2 separate regions of the Homo sapiens genome follow, and region 1 is linked to region 2. Evidence: fine-mapped QTL for protein levels in blood plasma. A gene starts in region 2. The other region holds a variant in brackets. All regions are shown on one strand. Distances are from middle to middle. Region 1 overlaps SEC14L5 (SEC14 like lipid binding 5). Region 2 holds the start of NAGPA (N-acetylglucosamine-1-phosphodiester alpha-N-acetylglucosaminidase).

The links. PIP is the chance, under the fine-mapping model, that this variant and not a neighbour inherited with it causes the effect. The UK Biobank Pharma Proteomics Project read protein levels with antibody pairs (Olink). The fine-mapping took linkage between variants from a reference panel, not from the people measured, so its PIPs are less certain.
Region 1: its variant is fine-mapped to the plasma level of the NAGPA protein (UK Biobank, PIP above 0.99).

Annotation. Positions count from the first base shown.
Region 1 is chr16:5,015,480-5,023,802 of GRCh38, reverse strand. It overlaps SEC14L5 (SEC14 like lipid binding 5), which reads right to left. Exons shown (of 16, transcript NM_014692.2): 16 at 4,646-8,323. Among named protein-coding and RNA genes, the nearest start is that of NAGPA-AS1, 14 kb to the left of the region's middle. The variant A/G (reference allele first, on the strand shown) is at 4,619.
Region 2 is chr16:5,029,865-5,038,187 of GRCh38, reverse strand. NAGPA (N-acetylglucosamine-1-phosphodiester alpha-N-acetylglucosaminidase) reads left to right here and starts at 4,253. Exons shown (of 10, transcript NM_016256.4): 1 at 4,253-4,359; 2 at 4,460-4,915; 3 at 6,304-6,443; 4 at 7,695-7,803. The coding sequence starts at 4,274. It overlaps NAGPA-AS1 (NAGPA antisense RNA 1), which reads right to left and starts at 4,486. Exons shown (of 2, transcript NR_038913.1): 1 at 4,127-4,486. RefSeq lists enhancers at 4,142-4,321, 4,515-5,016.

The DNA.
Region 1 (8,323 bases), 14 kb after region 2:
GGGAAACGGGCTCTGCCTCTTAAAAAGGAGCTGCAAAGTCAGGCGCCTTAGAGTCATTCAGGTGTATTCCTAAGAGCAGTTCCCAAGCCTGGCTGCAGATCCTGGAATCTACAGGGATCACTCTCAGTCTGACGCCACGGCCACGATGATGGCCATGATGACCATCCTGAAATGACCCTTGGCCTGAGAACCATGACCTCTGAGGGGACATCTCTGTTGTGCTGGCGGCTAAGTTGGAAAAGTGACAGTCCTGTGCACTGGAATCCAGGCCCAGAGGCAGCAGTACCTGAAGAGGGCCTGTCACAGCAAAGTTAGAGGGGTCCCAGGTCAGGTGACTCAAACATGCCAAGCGGTGTGAGTCCTGTGGCCCCTGGAATTTTTTTTTTTTTTTTTTTTGAGACAGTCTCATTTTGTTCCCCAGGCTGGAGTGCAATGGTGCAACCTCGGCTCACTGCAACCTCTGCCTCCCGGGTTCAAGCGTTTCTCATGCCTCAACCTCCCAAGTAGCTGGGATTTCAGGCATGCACCACCATGCCTGGCTAATTTTTGTATTTTTAGTAGAGGCGGGGTTTCACTATGTTGGCCAGGCTGGTCTCGAACCCTTGGCCTAAAGTGATCCACCCGCCTGGGCCTCCCAAAGTGCTGGGATTACAGGTATGAGCTGCCGCACCCAGCCTGTAATTTCTTTTTAATTTGTCATTGTGTTATTGATTTTCTTTGCCTGCCCGACATCCAGTCTCTCTTCTAGCAACAGCCCTGTCTTAGGCTAGGATTCCCCAGATGCAGAAACTAAGACAAGGAGGTGAGAGCAAGTACTTTATTGGGGAGGCGGCCCCAGGAAGCACTGGTAGAGGACAGGGAGGGAAGGCAGCCTGTGCAGAGTGCAGGAGTGAGCAAGTCTATACTGTAGGCAACAGGGGCTCAATCCTGCTGGGGGCCTCTGGGACAGTTGGTAGAACAGGTCTTGGTTGCACCACACAAGGGCGAGGAAGCTGGGGTATTTATCAGCCAACACCCATTCATCATTGGTTGAGGGCCGCTCCTGGGGGTTGACTCCCTGGCAGTGCCAGTCTGCCCTACCCAGAGACCGAATGTGCCCTGGCAACCACAGGGAGCTGTGGGAAAGTTGCAACATCTTGTGACCTGAAGCCTTCCATGGTAATGAGAGTGCCCGGGGAGGTGGCCACTTCTGCCTCCTGCTCCACGTCCTATCTAAGGTCTGCCGTCCAAAATCTAAATGCCTGAGCCCCAAAATGTGCCTCTCCTGTAACAGTACAAGTGTCACACGTTTTGGGTTGCCGGAGACCCCAAAACCCAGGAGCCCTGGCTGTGAGCCTCTAGCGTGTTGCTATCAGGGTAGTACCTCTCCCCCATTCTCCATCCAGGTGGTTTGGGTGGCACTGTCTTCTCACCCCAAGTTGCAGGTGGGCCTGAGAGATTGGTCCAGAGTTAGGCACCTGCCCCGGGTCAGCCCGTCAGAGCCCATCGTGGAACTTCTGCTGCAGCTGGAAGAAGAAACTCTCTCTGCTGGGACTGTCTAACTTCCAAGGTTAGACACAAGGAGGGCCACAAGGTGGGCCAAGGTGGGCCACAAGGAGGAGGAACGGAAACCAACTCTTCTCCAGTGTGGAGAAGACCTGATCAGAACCAAGAGATGGAGCGGGTGAGCCAGTGTGGAAAACGACTAGACTGAGGGTGTTGGGGTGGGGGTGGGGGGACATGATTTGAATGCCTGGATCCAGCTATACCTGAAGCCAGCCAGATCATTCTTGGACTTCCGAATTACATGAACCCATAAATTCCCATTTTTTGCTTGAGGCAATTTGTATTGGGTTTTGGGGTCTCCGGCAACCCAAACGTGTGACACTTGTATTGTTACAGGAGAGGCACATTTTGGGACTCAGGCATTTAGATTTTGGACGGCAGACCTTAGATAGGACATGGAGCAGGAGGCAGAAGTGTCTGAGATTCCAGTACCAACCTATGGTGCTGGTGGGGACACAAATATACAAGAGCTAAAGTCATCAAACTGCAGGCAAGCCGGCTGGGGATTCATGTGCTCCGATCCCAGCAGCATAAGGGTCCCCTCCCCCACCCACAGTAGTGACTCAAGACCCCCAGGCACAGGCACGGTGGTCTTGGACTGCACACTGAAGTCTCTGCAGCTCAACTGGGAACCCTGAGAGTTCCACATGCTGGGCCATCGCCATGGTGACACGTCTCAGCTTCTGGGGTGCTCTGCACAGAACTTTAGTATTCGGAAAGACCCCAGAAAGGTTCCCATCCTGGCGTCAATGGGTGGGCTTTCAAGGACTCTTTGGGGCCCCAAAACAAATGAAATTCGTGTGTGTGTCCTGAGTTCTCATGGGATTCTCCAAGCAGTCTGTGTCCGGAAAAAAAAAAAAATCCTGGCTTAGAGGTTTCAAATTGTGCTTTTTGCCAGCTTGGGCAACATGGCCCCGCCGCTACAAAAAAATACAAGAATTAGGCATGGTGGCGCACACCTGTGGTTCCAGCTACTTGGGGCTGAGGTGGGAGGGTCGCTTGAGCCCGGCAGGTTGAGGCTACAGTGAACCATGATCATGCCACCGCACTCCAGCCTGGGTGACAGAGTGAGACCCTGTCTCAAAAAAAAATGTGACTTTTGGGGATCCGCATTCCTCCAAAATGCCTTGTTGGGGGCTGGGCACTAAGGGAGGCAGGGAAGTGAGAGGGAGAAGTTGGTAGCCACAGCCTCTGACATCCCTGGAGGCCCTGGGCTCCCTTCCTCCCAGGCCCTACCCCAGCTCCCACTGCAGCTGCTTGCGTCCAACCTGGCTCCGCAGAGGTCCCAGGGGTCTGTGCCCCAAGAACTGATCCCAGAGGCAGCCTCTGGGCCACAGGGAGCCCTGGGCATGTTTTGCTCGCTCTGGGTCCAGGCCCCAGGAGGCCTCCAAGGAAAGCGCTGTGGCTGAGACAGGCATCAGCAGGGCCCCACAGCTCAGGCCTGATCCCAGCTCCCGCCCACCCTCCGGAGCTCCATCTTCCCCCACAGGGCTGTTCTTTCTCGATACCCGCCGCACCCACGAGTCAGCTGGCTGTTCCTTTGAAACCCGCCACCCACAGTTCCAGAGAAATCCACGGAAGAGTCACCGCCCATGAACACACGCAAGTGCAAGCCGCCTCCTCTCCCCTGACGAGCTGTGCTGGGCAGGGCTGGGGAGCAGAAGCTGGGTGGACAGATGGCCCTCGTGCCATCACACAAAACACCACACCTGCTCTGCTCTCACAAATGACAACCCCAGCCACCAGCTCCAAAACGACGAAGGCTTTTCAGAGTCCCAGGATCTGTGTGGCAGCCAGCTCCACTCTCCGTGCCCCAAGAGAGCTCACGGGAAGGACAGGTGGCACCCTGGACAGGGTTCATCACAACCTTCTGACGTCAGGACTGTGGCTGTTTTGGGATGCAGCTCTCCAGGACACCAGGTCTGGCACTTTGGTAAAACCCCAGGGGGAGGGCAGGGCAGCCCAGGAGAGATGGGCACCAGGGATTTTCATATCTGTTTAATGCAGATATAACTGTGTATCTGGTTAGCTATTGTATGCATACATAATAAGTTGAGTAGCATGCCCCAAAATTCATGTCCATCCGGAACCTTAAAATGTGACCTCGCTTGGAAGTAAGATCTTTGCAGGTGGAATTAGTTAAGGATCTCAAGACGTTATACTGGACTTAGGATGGGTCCTAAATCCAATGACTGGCATCCCTACAAGAAGAGGAGACACAGAGAGAGAGGAAGGCCATATGATGATGGAGGCAGAGACTGGAGTGATGCAACCACAAGCCACGAGGTGCCACTAGACACTGGAAGAGGCAAGGAAGGGTCCTCCCCTACAGCCTTCAGAAGGAGCAGGGCCCTACCTCCATGGTGATTCCGGACTTCCAGCCTCCAGAACATTCCTGTTGTTGTTGTTGCTGTTGTTGTTGTTTTGAGACGGAGTCTCACTCTGTCACCCAGGCTGGAGTGCAGTGACATAATCTTGGCTCACTGCAAGCTCCGCCTCCCGGGTTCACGGCATTCTCCTGCCTCAGCCTCCCGAGTAGCTAGGACTACAGGCGCCCGCCACCATGCCCGGCTAATTTTTTGTATTTTTTAGTAGAGACGGGGTTTCACCATGTTAGCCAGATGGTCTCAATCTCCTGACCTTGTGATCCACCCGCCTCGGCCTCCCAAAGTGCTGGGATTACAGGCGTGAGCCACTGCGCCTGGCCTATTTCTGCTTTATATATAAAAATTGTGATCCTCCCTCACACGGCCCAATAACCAATCTTGAGAACCTTAACTAATTACACCTGCAAAAACCTTATTTCCAAATGAGGTCACATTCTAAGGTTCTAGGTGGACATGAATTTGGGGACATGCTATCCAATCCATTACATATGTATACAATATATATGATACACAATTATACCTGCATTAAACAGATATGCAGCCCCTTGGGGGTGATATCACTCCGGTTGCAAATGCTCTAAAGCAAGGGTGTCCAATCTTTTGGCTTCCCTGGACCACATTGGAACAAGAAGAATTGTCTTGGGCCACACATAAAATACACTAATGATAGCTGATGAGCTGAAAAA[A/G]CAAAGAAAACACACACACAAAAAACCTCAGTATTTTAAGAAAGTTTACGAACTCGTGTTGGAGCACATTCAAAGCAGTCCGGGGCCGCGTGCAGCCTGCAGGCCACAGGCTGAACAAGCTAGCTCTAAAGTCTTTTAAACAACAGCTGGAAAGTTCTTGAACGAGCCCACGGGAAACCTCCAGGGTTTTAGGAAGCTGACGATGCAAGTTTATCCAAATGGAAAACATTTAATGCTGCTGGTTGGAGCAAGTGATCAGGCAAACAAAAAAACCCATCGTGTTTCACTGGCTCAAAGAGACTTTGTTGAAAACAATTATACTATTCTCATTGGACAATAAATTTTACAGCAGGGAGGGGGAATTCCAGAGAGTGCAGGGTAGAAAAAAAGAGTCTCAAACTCTCCATACTTCAACCTCTGGGAAAAAACATTTTCTAACTGCCAAGGGAAATACCACTCAGAATACACTCCCTCAGATGGGTGGACTTACCCAGAAAACACAAGCAGCTTCTTTCTTCTTTTTTTGAGACAGGGTCTTGCTTTGTCACCCAGGATGAAGTACAGGGGTGAGATCATGGCTCACTCCAGCCTTGACCTCCAAGCAATCCTTCTGCCTCAGCCTCCCGAGCAGCTGAGACTATAGGCACGCACCACCACGCCTGGCTCATTTTTTAATTTTTTGTAGAGACAGGGTCTCACTATGTTGCCCAGGCTGGTCTTGAACTCCTGCACTCAAGCGATCAGCCGGCCTCAGCCTCCCAAAGTGTTGGGATTATAGGCATGAGCCACCACGCCCCGCCCACACAAGCAGTTTCTAAAAGAGAAAGACTGCACACCCAACTCAGAGGGCAATAATTCTTGACACCTACTTTTCTCTGGGTGCAATAACGAAAAACAGGGATAGGCGACCTCAGGAAGAAAACGAGTCTTTGGATGCGAAGCATTAAGTAATCAGAATGACCACTGACATTAATGGAGCGCTTTCTGTGTTCTGGGAGCTGTGCTGAAAGCTTTACAGCTACTCCCTCATTTCGTCCCACTACAACCTATTGAGGTAGGCACTGCTATCCTCACTTTACAGATGAGGAAACTGAGGCACAGAGAGGTTAAGTCACCTGGTCAAGGTTACACAGCTAGTGAAAGGAAGGCTGGGGTTTGAGTCCTGGCCTAAATTCAAGGCCCAGGTGCCCAAACACCAACAGTAATGCTGCTTGTGGGTTGCTTCTGTCCTGGTCACAATGGATTAATGAACTAATGATGCAAGAAGCCCAAGCCAAGGCACTTCCAGCCTTTGTGGCTCAGGGGAAATTCAAAAGCCAAAAGCTTGGCAATCCCTTCCTTGGATTATTTTTAATTCCAGTCCTCCCGAAGGCAAGAAGAATGACCTTGATAATGCTTCCACGTGGGTCCCCGAGACCTCCACATGGGAGGAGAGCCGGCCGTAGCAGATGCCACCATGGATACCTGCTGGTTCTGTGGTCCAGCTTCTCTTGTCCATTGGGGGAATGGCCCTCCCCAATCCTGCTGCGGCTTCTGCAGGGAATGTCAATCACGGGACCCTAGTTCCTTGCCAGTGTGGCCCACAGGAATAAGCATGTGACTCGAGCTGGGCCAATCAGAGCCTTCCATGAGATTTGAGATGGAAAAGCATCTCTTAGAGTGTGAATCCTGAAATTATAGGCTTGGGGCTGCTGGCAGCCATCTTTCCCGCCAGGTGGAAGAAAGAATGAGGTCAGCATGCAAAGAGATGCAGAGTCAAGAGGCCTGGGTGCAGTTGAGAGGCCTGAGGACATTAAGCTCCTGGATCCAGCCATATCTGAAGCAGCACCCACCTTCAGCCATCCCTAGTACAGGACCCAGGGAATTTGCTTTGTTGCTTAAGCCAGTTTGGGCTGGTTTTCCCTAGGGAGAGAGCACTCTCAAGAGCAGAACTGAAAGGGCCTGAGGTTCCTCACCCCCACTGTTAAGGGTGGACAGCTGATAGCAGACTCCCCTCCCCCCACCCGCCTCTGGAACAGGCAGTTCCAGCTTCCTTCCGTAAAAGGCTTCTGTGTCCTTCTCTGGGGCTAGACAATAAATGTATAAAGACTGCCAGGGCAGCTTATCCCAGCATACTTGTAGGATAACACCTAGTTTTTAAGAGAAAAGCTAGAAATTCACTTAAAGATAGTTGAAAATATTGCAAGTTGCTCTCAGCAATAAATGCCTGGTGATATGGGAGCAATTAGTTTTGAGAACGTCTCCTTCCAATCAGTCGGTCTCTTATGCACACATGTGCACACACACCTTGACGCAGAGTGCAAAGCAATCTATTTTGTTCAGATACCTGAGAAGCGGACAGAGAGCCAACAGGAAGGTGGGCAAGGCTCTCTCCCAGCAGGAAGAAGGATGTATCTGAAAAGATGACACTTTCTCTCTTCCTTGGGTTTGGGGTTGAGGCTGGCGTAGATATAAGTTTCCTGGCCCTGCATTGCTGAGCCTGCATAAAGATGATTCTTGTGGCCACAAAACCACCCCTTGGCTCAGTTACTGCAGCAGAGATGAGCCCCAACTCTAAGCAAGGCCAGGAGACAAGGGTACCAGCCACTGCTGACAGAGCCATGTCAGTGAGACTCCTGCCACGCAGGTCATGAGGATGTGTAATGTGGGCTGGGCGCAAGTCAATGGGGTAGGGACTGGCGTGGCCACATCCAGGGGTGCAGAGGTGTTGTCTTCATGCAACAATAGTGACCCCATTCTGCTGGTGCTCCCAAATGCCTAAGGGAAGCCAGAAATCCTGATTTCGATGCGAAATGCCTCAATTTTTAAACCATTCTAAAGGCAAAAAAGCAACACTAAAAGCAGGCCAGATCAGGCTTCAAGTTGGTGACCCCTGACTGGCTGCCTTTTGGGGAGTCCAGGAAAGGAAAGGAGAAATGTCCTCAGGCCCCAAGGAGACCCAAGACGCTCCTGTGTAGTAACTAGGGGAACTCATGTCAATATTGAACCTAGTTCCAGAGTCATATCTGCCCCAGGGCAAACACAGCAGCCTCCACTCGCGGGGGGAATCGAGACTCCATGTTGAGACCCTGGATCTAGCCTTACCTGAAGCAAGCCCTCCTGGACTGGCCAGTTCTATGCACCCATGAATGATCATGCTTTTGTGTTGAAGCACCTGGGCATGGGTCTCTGTGGCTTACAACCAAAAACAGTCATAATTAAACAGTTCCCTAGGAGAGAAAGGCATCTCCAGTGGGGTATACAGACAGCCTCAGTCACCCCATCACTGCCTGGAACTTAGCAGAAACCCAGGGCTCTCCCACCCTCTCCAATCAGGGATGGTCAGGCTTAGGCCATGCTGGCCAAGTGCAGGGAACATGGATTTTCACTTCAGGATGTGCTGTTCCCCACAAAGAGCAGCGCCTGTAACTCACTTAACTGCTCACCAAGCACATCTTGATACTGCATAACAGAACGTTATGCAATCAGATGCCAAGGTAAACACCCTTCATTTCTGCCTCCCCAGCATCCTTCCTCCTTCTTCTTAGGGGGGACCCCAGTACTCCTCGAGGCACCCACTAGTGCTTTTGAGAGCAGGTGGTTGGTTCCAGAGATGTGCATGTGATCCAGGCTGGCCAATCACTGCACCTCACTGCAACCCTGGATCACGGTGATTGGTCCAGATTGGGCATGACCCTGCTGGCCAATCAGCATTCTCCAGTGTGC
Region 2 (8,323 bases):
AAATATTTGCTGAATTAAATAGAAAAAATGAAGAAAAAGAAAAAAGAGGCACCTGGAGATGTTTTGTCCAGGTCTTAGCTGGTGGAAGGGACCTTGGGCTGTGAGCGTGCTTGAGTCTGGTCTGCCCAGCTGGCAGCCCCCACACCACCCTGCAAGTCCACATGGGATGAGGGGCACCCCTAATGTACCCAACTGGACGTGGGGGCCACCTACCAGACACGCAGCCTATGACAGAATCTCCTGCCCCTCAGAACCTCAACGCCAGTTTCTGGGATGCTGTTAATGCCCTCCCAGCCCTTTACACAACAGATACTATACACAGCACGGACAGAAGAAATTGATCCTTTGACGTTTCCATTTCCTAAGAGTTTTACAAAAATGACTTTCGGGCCGGGCACAGTGGCTCACGCCTATAATCCTAACACTTTGGGAGGCCAACGGGGGTGGATCACTTGAGGTCAGGAGTTCAAGACCAGCCTGGCCAATATGGTGAAACCCTGTGTCTATTAAAAATACAAAAATTAGCCGGGCGTGTTGGCACACCCCGGTAATCCCAGCTACTCAGGAGGCTGAGGCAGGAGAATCGCTTGAACCTGGGAGGCTGAGGTTGCAGTGAGCCAAGATCAGGCCATTTCAATCTACACTCGAGCTTAGGCAACAGAGTGAGACTCCATCTAAAAATAAATAAATAAACTAGCCTGGTGTGGTAGTACACACCTGTAGTCCCAGCTACTCAGGAGGCTGAGGTGGGAGGACTGCTTGAGCCCAAGAAGTCGAGGCTGCAGTGAGCGATGATTGCACCACTGTACTCCAGTCTGGGCAACAGAATGGGATCCTGTCTCTAAATAATAATAGAATTACATAACAAAACTTTTTTGGGTGATAAAAAAAATCCTAAAACTGGATAATGGTGATGCTGGAATATCGCTGTGCATTTACTACAAATCATTGCATTGTACACTTAGGAGAATTTTACAGTATGTAAATTTTATCTTAATAAAGTTTAAAAAAAAACCTTCCAATGGCTTACTATTTCACTTTGGCTGAAATCCATACTCATTTCCCTGGATCCCTGCATGTACGATCTGGCCTTGCCTTGGCCCTCCCACTTCAACCCTGCTCACCACCTCCAACCCCTCCCCCACGGCCCTCCTCTCCCACCAGGTGGCTCTTCCTGCTGCACCTCCCAAGCTGTTTCCCACTTCAGGCTCTGGCCCAGATCTGCACACAGCCGCATCTTTTCTTTCCTTCAATCACAGTCTAAAGGGGCTTGGAGAGGCTTCCCTGCCACACCTGCAACATCCTTCTCTCGCAGTCCTGCCCTTTGCTTCTTGCATTCATCACATAACTGTTTCATGTCTGTTTCCCCTTGAAAAGCTAAGCTCCATGAAGGCAGGGATCAGCTGCAACGGAGCACATACGAGGTGCTCAGCCTGTTGAACACACAAATGATGGTAGAACTCAAATGAGGATGCTAAGAGGGGACAAAAGTATTCCAGGCTGAAGAGCAAAAAAGAAAACCCTTGGCTTCTTAGCAGCTTTGGCTAGAACTGTGGATATGGGCTGCTCTGTTCAAATGCAGAATTTCTGTGGCACCCGTTATGTGCTTAGAAAAACTTGGCAAAGGAGTAGCAAACCTCAAAGTAGGGAGAAAACCAAAGTCAGAACTTGCCAAAGACTGCCTGTTCCTGCAACTCCTAACTGAGGCAGAAAAAAAGAGCGCTTCCGGAGGCAGGGAGTAGGCGTCAGGCCTGGGCTCCTCTGCTGGTTATTTTTAGCAGCCCAATGCAAAGCTCAGAAAGATATACTCCCTTCACATCAATATATTGGTCATTTAAGCCTCTAGGAGGAGCAGTCATTTTGTACATGGTTAAAGTGAACTAGGAGCGTCAGAGCTGTTCCCGGGACCCCTTTGAGGTCCCTGAATTGTATTAGTTTCCAAAAGCAAGGCATCAGCATGGCCATGTTCTCTGTCAAAGCTCAAGAGTCTCTCCCACGCCTCTCTCCTAGCTCTTGGTGGCTGCTAGCCTTCTTTGCATTCTTTGACTTATGACTGCATCAGTCCAATCTCTGCCTGTGTTCATATGAGCTTCTTTCCTCTGTGTGTATTTGTGTCTTTTACAAGAACACCAGTCAGATTGGATTCAGGGCCCACCCTACTCCAGAATGACCTCATCTTAACTAATTACATCTGCAAAGACCCAATTTCCAAACAAGTTCACATTCTGAGGTTCTGGTAAGGACATGAGTTTGGGGGGACACTCTCTAACTGAGTTCACTAACCCTCACCGTGGACTGGCTCAAAGGAGCAGTGGCTCAAAGAGGGGCCTGAGATCAAGCACCAGAAGTGCTGACTGTGGATGAAAAGGGGCTGGCCTGGCCCCTATCTGTGTCCCCCCATACCTGTGGTAGTGAGGGAGAAGGAAAAGAAAAATCCGTTGGGGAAAATTCTGACCTCAGAAGTGGCCTGCCTGAAAAGTCATAGAAACTGGCAAAAATAAAGCAACCTGGGAAAAAACTCAGGCTGGACCTGCACGGAGATAAGCAGACAGGGTCCAGCGCAGAAGCCCTTTGTTCTTTGCATAATTAGCAGGCTCCCGGGAAAAAGTTTCCTCTCCTTTTCAGGCATATACACAGTGGGCTCCATGGAAACCGGCACAGGGAGGAGGGGGCCTTATCTAAAACAAACCCACAGTTACACAAACAAGAGAAGCAGCGATTTGCACTTGCCTAGAGACATACCCACAGCTGCATAACATAAGGGGAGCTGCACAGGCAGTTTTACTGGTAAGAAGTTACTCAGTTACCAGGAGGAGAGCAGTGTCCTATAAAAGTTTTTTGCGGCCAGGCACAGTGGCTCACGCCTGTAATCCCAGCACTTTGGGAGGCGGAAGGAGGCGGATCACCTGAGGTCAGGAGTTTGAAACCAGCCTGGCCAACATGGTAAAATTTCGTCTCTACCCAAAATACAAAAATTAGCAGGGCGCAGTGACGTGTGCCTGTAATCCCAGCTACTCGGGAGGCTGAGGCAGGAGAATCATTTGAACCCAGGAGGCAGAGGTTGTTGAGGTTGCAGTGAGCCAAGATCGCACCATTGCACTCCAGCCTGGGTGACAAGAGCAAAACTCTGTCTTAAAAAAAAAAAAAAAAAAAGCTTTTTGCATTCAGCTGTAACCCGACAATCCACTCGGACTCCCGTCTCCACTTTGGAGAGCTTTCTTCTTTCCCTTATTAAACGTTCGCTCCAACCCCACCCTTGTGTCCACGCTCCTTAGTTTTCTTGGAGGTAGGACAAAGAACCCCGGGACTAGTTCAGACAAGGAGAAACTGCTATATTAAGGTGCACTGGCAAGACCGCAACAGTATCAAGCCAATTAGACTTGCCGTGGCTCCTGGAATGGCCCACGCACTGCACTGGCACCAAGACACCACCCAACCCTGGACACTGCACTGGGACAGGAGGCCTGAAGAGAAGAATCCTCTCAAAGGAAGCTTGAAGTACATGCTACAAAATAAACTGGCTTCTATACTCAGGGCCAGCTTCATGGGCTCACTCAGAAGGTCCCTGGCTTGCTGCAACCATTTGCTCTGACCATCTTGAAATTCTTAATAGTTTTCTGGGTTTTTTAGTAAGTGTCCCCACGTTTTCATTTTGCATTGAGTCACACAAATCATGTAGCTGGGCTGTCTTCAAAAATGTCAAGGTAGTAAAAGACAAAAGGCTGAGGAGCCTTCCAGATGAAGAGATCAAAGAGACATGACAACTAAAAGCAACTCCTGGGTTACAGGGTCAGGGGCGGACAAAAAGGAAAAGAAAAAAAAAGACATTAGAGGGACAATTGAAGGTTAGCTGTGGATGACATCACAGAAATGTCAATGGGAGTTGTCCTAATGATATTTGCCCTGTGGTTAAGAAAATGCCCTTGTTCTTAGGAGATTCATGGCGAGGTATGGGGTAAAGGATCATGACATCTGCAATTTGGTTGCCATTGGTTCAGGAAAAAAAAAAAACAAAGTACAAATGATTGAGTAAATCAGGCAAGCCTAAACCACTGCTAAACATGAATAACAGTTCTACGAGAGTTCTTTATGCTCTCCTTGCAACTTCCTGTAGGTTTGAGATTACCTGGAGATAAAAAGTTAACATCACCAGCACCGCCCGCCAGCCCGCCAGCCGAAAAGAGCGCAGGTAATTCAGTCCGAGCTGAAAGCGGCCACCCTGGGACTTGAGTCACGTGAGGCGAGCCCACATGACCCGAGGCCCCGGTCCAATATGGCGACCTCCACGGGTCGCTGGCTTCTCCTCCGGCTTGCACTATTCGGCTTCCTCTGGGAAGCGTCCGGCGGCCTCGACTCGGGGTGAGTGCAGCTCCCTGGGCCAGCCTGGTTCGGGGGGTCCCCCCTGTCCTCCGAGCTCACGAGGACAGCCCCCTGAGCTCACGGCCGCCCGTCCCCGCAGGGCCTCCCGCGACGACGACTTGCTACTGCCCTATCCACGCGCGCGCGCGCGCCTCCCCCGGGACTGCACACGGGTGCGCGCCGGCAACCGCGAGCACGAGAGTTGGCCTCCGCCTCCCGCGACTCCCGGCGCCGGCGGTCTGGCCGTGCGCACCTTCGTGTCGCACTTCAGGGACCGCGCGGTGGCCGGCCACCTGACGCGGGCCGTTGAGCCCCTGCGCACCTTCTCGGTGCTGGAGCCCGGTGGACCCGGCGGCTGCGCGGCGAGACGACGCGCCACCGTGGAGGAGACGGCGCGGGCGGCCGACTGCCGTGTCGCCCAGAACGGCGGCTTCTTCCGCATGAACTCGGGCGAGTGCCTGGGGAACGTGGTGAGCGACGAGCGGCGGGTGAGCAGCTCCGGGGGGCTGCAGAACGCGCAGTTCGGGATCCGCCGCGACGGGACCCTGGTCACCGGGTGAGGAGGCAGGGAGCCCCGTGCTGTCGAGGGCAGAGGGCCTGAGATTTGGGTTGTAGCCGTGCCTCCGTGTTCAAGTCACTTAACCAAGCTGAGCCCCTGTTTCCTCCTCTGCAGAATGGGGATAGGAATCGCTTCCTTGCAGAGTTTATTCATCATCCAGTATCATTGAGCACTTGCTTGTATCAGGCAATGTGCCGCGCCCCGGTGAGATAGCCGTGAACAACACAGTCTTTGCCTTAACAGCCCTCCCCCATTACTAGAAAAATCAACAAAAGCCGGGTAAATAGCTAACATACATTCTGATTGCTGTGTGTGCAGCAAAGCAACCAACGGGGTGAACCCGTTGTAAATAGTGTTGATTTTAGGGAGGGTGATCTGGAACACGCCTCTCCGAGGTGACCTTTGAGTGGGAACTTGAAGATGAATCACTAAGTGAGCCAAGGTCAGAACTGGAGGAAGAGCGTTTCAGTCCAAAGGAACCCCACGCACAAAGGCTCAGAGGCTCAGGGGGGCTTGTGTGTATGAGGGACTGAAAAAGGAGTGGGGTGTCAGAAACATCAACTCATCAAGACTGATGATTTTTTTTTTTTTGAGACAGAGTCTTGCTCTGTTGCCCAGGATGGAGGGCAGTGGCATGATACCGGCTCACTGCAACCTCTGCCTCCCGGGTTCAAGCGATTCTCCTGCCTCAGCCTCTGGAGTAGCTGGGACTACGGACGTGTGCCACCACGCCCGGCTGATTTTTGTATTTTTAGTAGAGACGGGATGGGGTGGGGAACGGGGGAGTGGGTTCACCATATTGGCCTGGCCGGTCTCGAACTCCTGACCTCAAGTGATCCACCCACCTCAGCCTCCCAAAGTGCTGGGATGACAGGTGTGAGCCACCACGCCCTGGCAAGATTGATGATTTGAATTATTTAAAATTATCTTAAAAATTATTTGAGTCTCAAAAAAAAAGTATTTGTTGATGATAAAGCTTGTTCTGATCCTGAGTGGGACCAGGTGGGAGAGAGCAGTGGAGAAACAAGGAAGCCAATGAAGGGCCGTAACAGGGATCAAGTGGTAGTTGGGCTGGGTATGGCCTGGGGATTGAGGGCCATAGATGGATTTGAGCTCTGTTGGGGGATGGTCATTTCTGTTAAATGAAACAGACTGTTTGCAAAGGCTTGTGGGGATTGTATTGTCAGAACCCTGTCCAGCTTCAGCTCTGACAACAGGGAGATTCCTAGGGCTGTTAAGTTGTCCCAGCTACACTCAGGCCCCAGGAGGTTCCTGGGGCATGAGGGGGAATCTAGCAGCCAGGTTGGGATGGCTAGGGAGAAAGAGCCTGACTATCTGCAGTTGCCCCTGCTGGTGAGTGAGCTTCCCACCTTCCCCGGATCCAGGTACCTGTCTGAGGAGGAGGTGCTGGACACTGAGAACCCATTTGTGCAGCTGCTGAGTGGGGTCGTGTGGCTGATTCGTAATGGAAGCATCTACATCAACGAGAGCCAAGCCACAGAGTGTGACGAGACACAGGAGACAGGTTGGATGGGGAGGCTGTTGGCAACAACCCTCTCGAGAACCAGGACCAGTGGGCTGGGCGGAGCTGTTCTTAAGTCTTTCAACAAGTATTGAGCAGCTACTTTGTGCCCAGCACTATTCTGGGTACTGGGGATTCATGGGGAGGAAGATAGGCTTATATTGAATATATAGGACAAAAAATAGTTATAGAATATGCTGAAAAGAATTGATAAGTGCTCAGAAACAAAAATAAAGTTAGGGGAAAGGGGAGAGATGGGGACCGGAGCTGTGGGTACAGGAAGAGAAAAGTGAAGAGAAAAAAATCTTCATGGACCTGCAACATCGGCGTGGCCCAGGAGCTTGTTTCAAAGCCCCACACCCTCAGACCTGCAGAATCAGAGGCAAGGCCCAAGAGTCTATGTTTTAACGGGCCTCCATGGTGACTCTGACCGACACTCAAGGTTGAGAACCACTGGGATGCAGAATACTGGGATGGGGACAGGATACCATGACCATTTTAGAGTGGGCAGTAAGCTAGGTGTGGTGGCTAACACCTATAATCCCAGCACTTTGGGAGGCCGAGGCGGGAGGATCGGTTGAGCCCAGGAGTTCAAGACCTGCCTGGGCAACATAGTGAGACCTATCTCTACAAAAAAAAAAAATACAAAAATTAGCCAGGCATGGTGGTGTGTGCCTGTAGTCCCAGCTACTTGGGAGGCTGAAGCATGAGAATTGCTTGAACCTGGGAGGTGGAGGTTGCAGTGAGCTGAGATCATGCCACTGCACTCCAGCCCGGGCAACACAGCGAGACTCTTTGTCTCAAAAAAAAAAAAAGAGTGGGCGGTCAAGGAAGGCCTCACTAAGGAGGTGATCTGACAAAGGAGCAAGCTAGAGAAAAGCACAGTTCCCAGCCAGAGGGAACAGGAAGTGCAAAGTGGCTGCAGGGTGGTGAGGGGACACCCAGGAGCTGAGGCAGGAGGAGGAAGAGGCTGGGGAGGGCATGCTGGCTCTTTGGATTTTGTTCTAAGAACAGGGGAAACCATTAGAGGGTCTTCACCTGGAGGCTGGCATAGCTTGGTTTACCTGTAAGAAGAGACCCCCCGGCTGCCCTGGGGAGACTGGGATGTGCAGAGGGGAGGCAGGGAGACGAGCAAGGAGGCTGCTGTGCTTCCCAGGGAGGTACCAGGTAGCTCAGACCAGTGGGAAGTGGAGTTAGGCAAGAAGCAGGAGGCCTCCCAAGGGGCGGTGATCAGCCAGGCTGCTTTTCCTTCAGGTTCCTTTAGCAAATTTGTGAATGTGATATCAGCCAGGACGGCCATTGGCCACGACCGGAAAGGGCAGCTGGTGCTCTTTCATGCAGACGGCCAAACGGAGCAGCGTGGGTGAGTCCTGGGAGCTGAGGCCCCCCGGCCGGGGCTCAGTCCTGCTAGGAGGAACGTTGACCCAATGACAGCCACCCTCTGACTCTACCTGCTTTCTGGGATGTTGACACCTATCTGTCCCCCCTCCCAGGGCCCCCTCACCTTCCCACAGGATGAGGGTTCTGAGATCTTTGCCGATTCCAAGAACTCATCATCTTCAGCTTTAGGCCTCACCTTTCCTGAACCCTAGATAGGATACAAGGAAATGGTCACAAAGTGAGCAGGGAGAAGATCTTGGTTCCAATCCCAGCTTAGCCATCGATGACTTGTCTACCCACCTATGCCGTAGACAAGTCCCTCGGCCTCCCTGAGCCTCATTTCTAGCCCCTGTAAAGAGAGTGTTTTGGTTTGCTCTGGTTGCATAACCAGCACAAATTTAGCAACACTCAGCAGGGAATGTTCTTTTGTTTGTTTGTTTCTTTGAGACAGGGTCTTACTCCGTCGCCCAGGCCAGAGTGCAGTGGTGCAATCTCAGCTCACT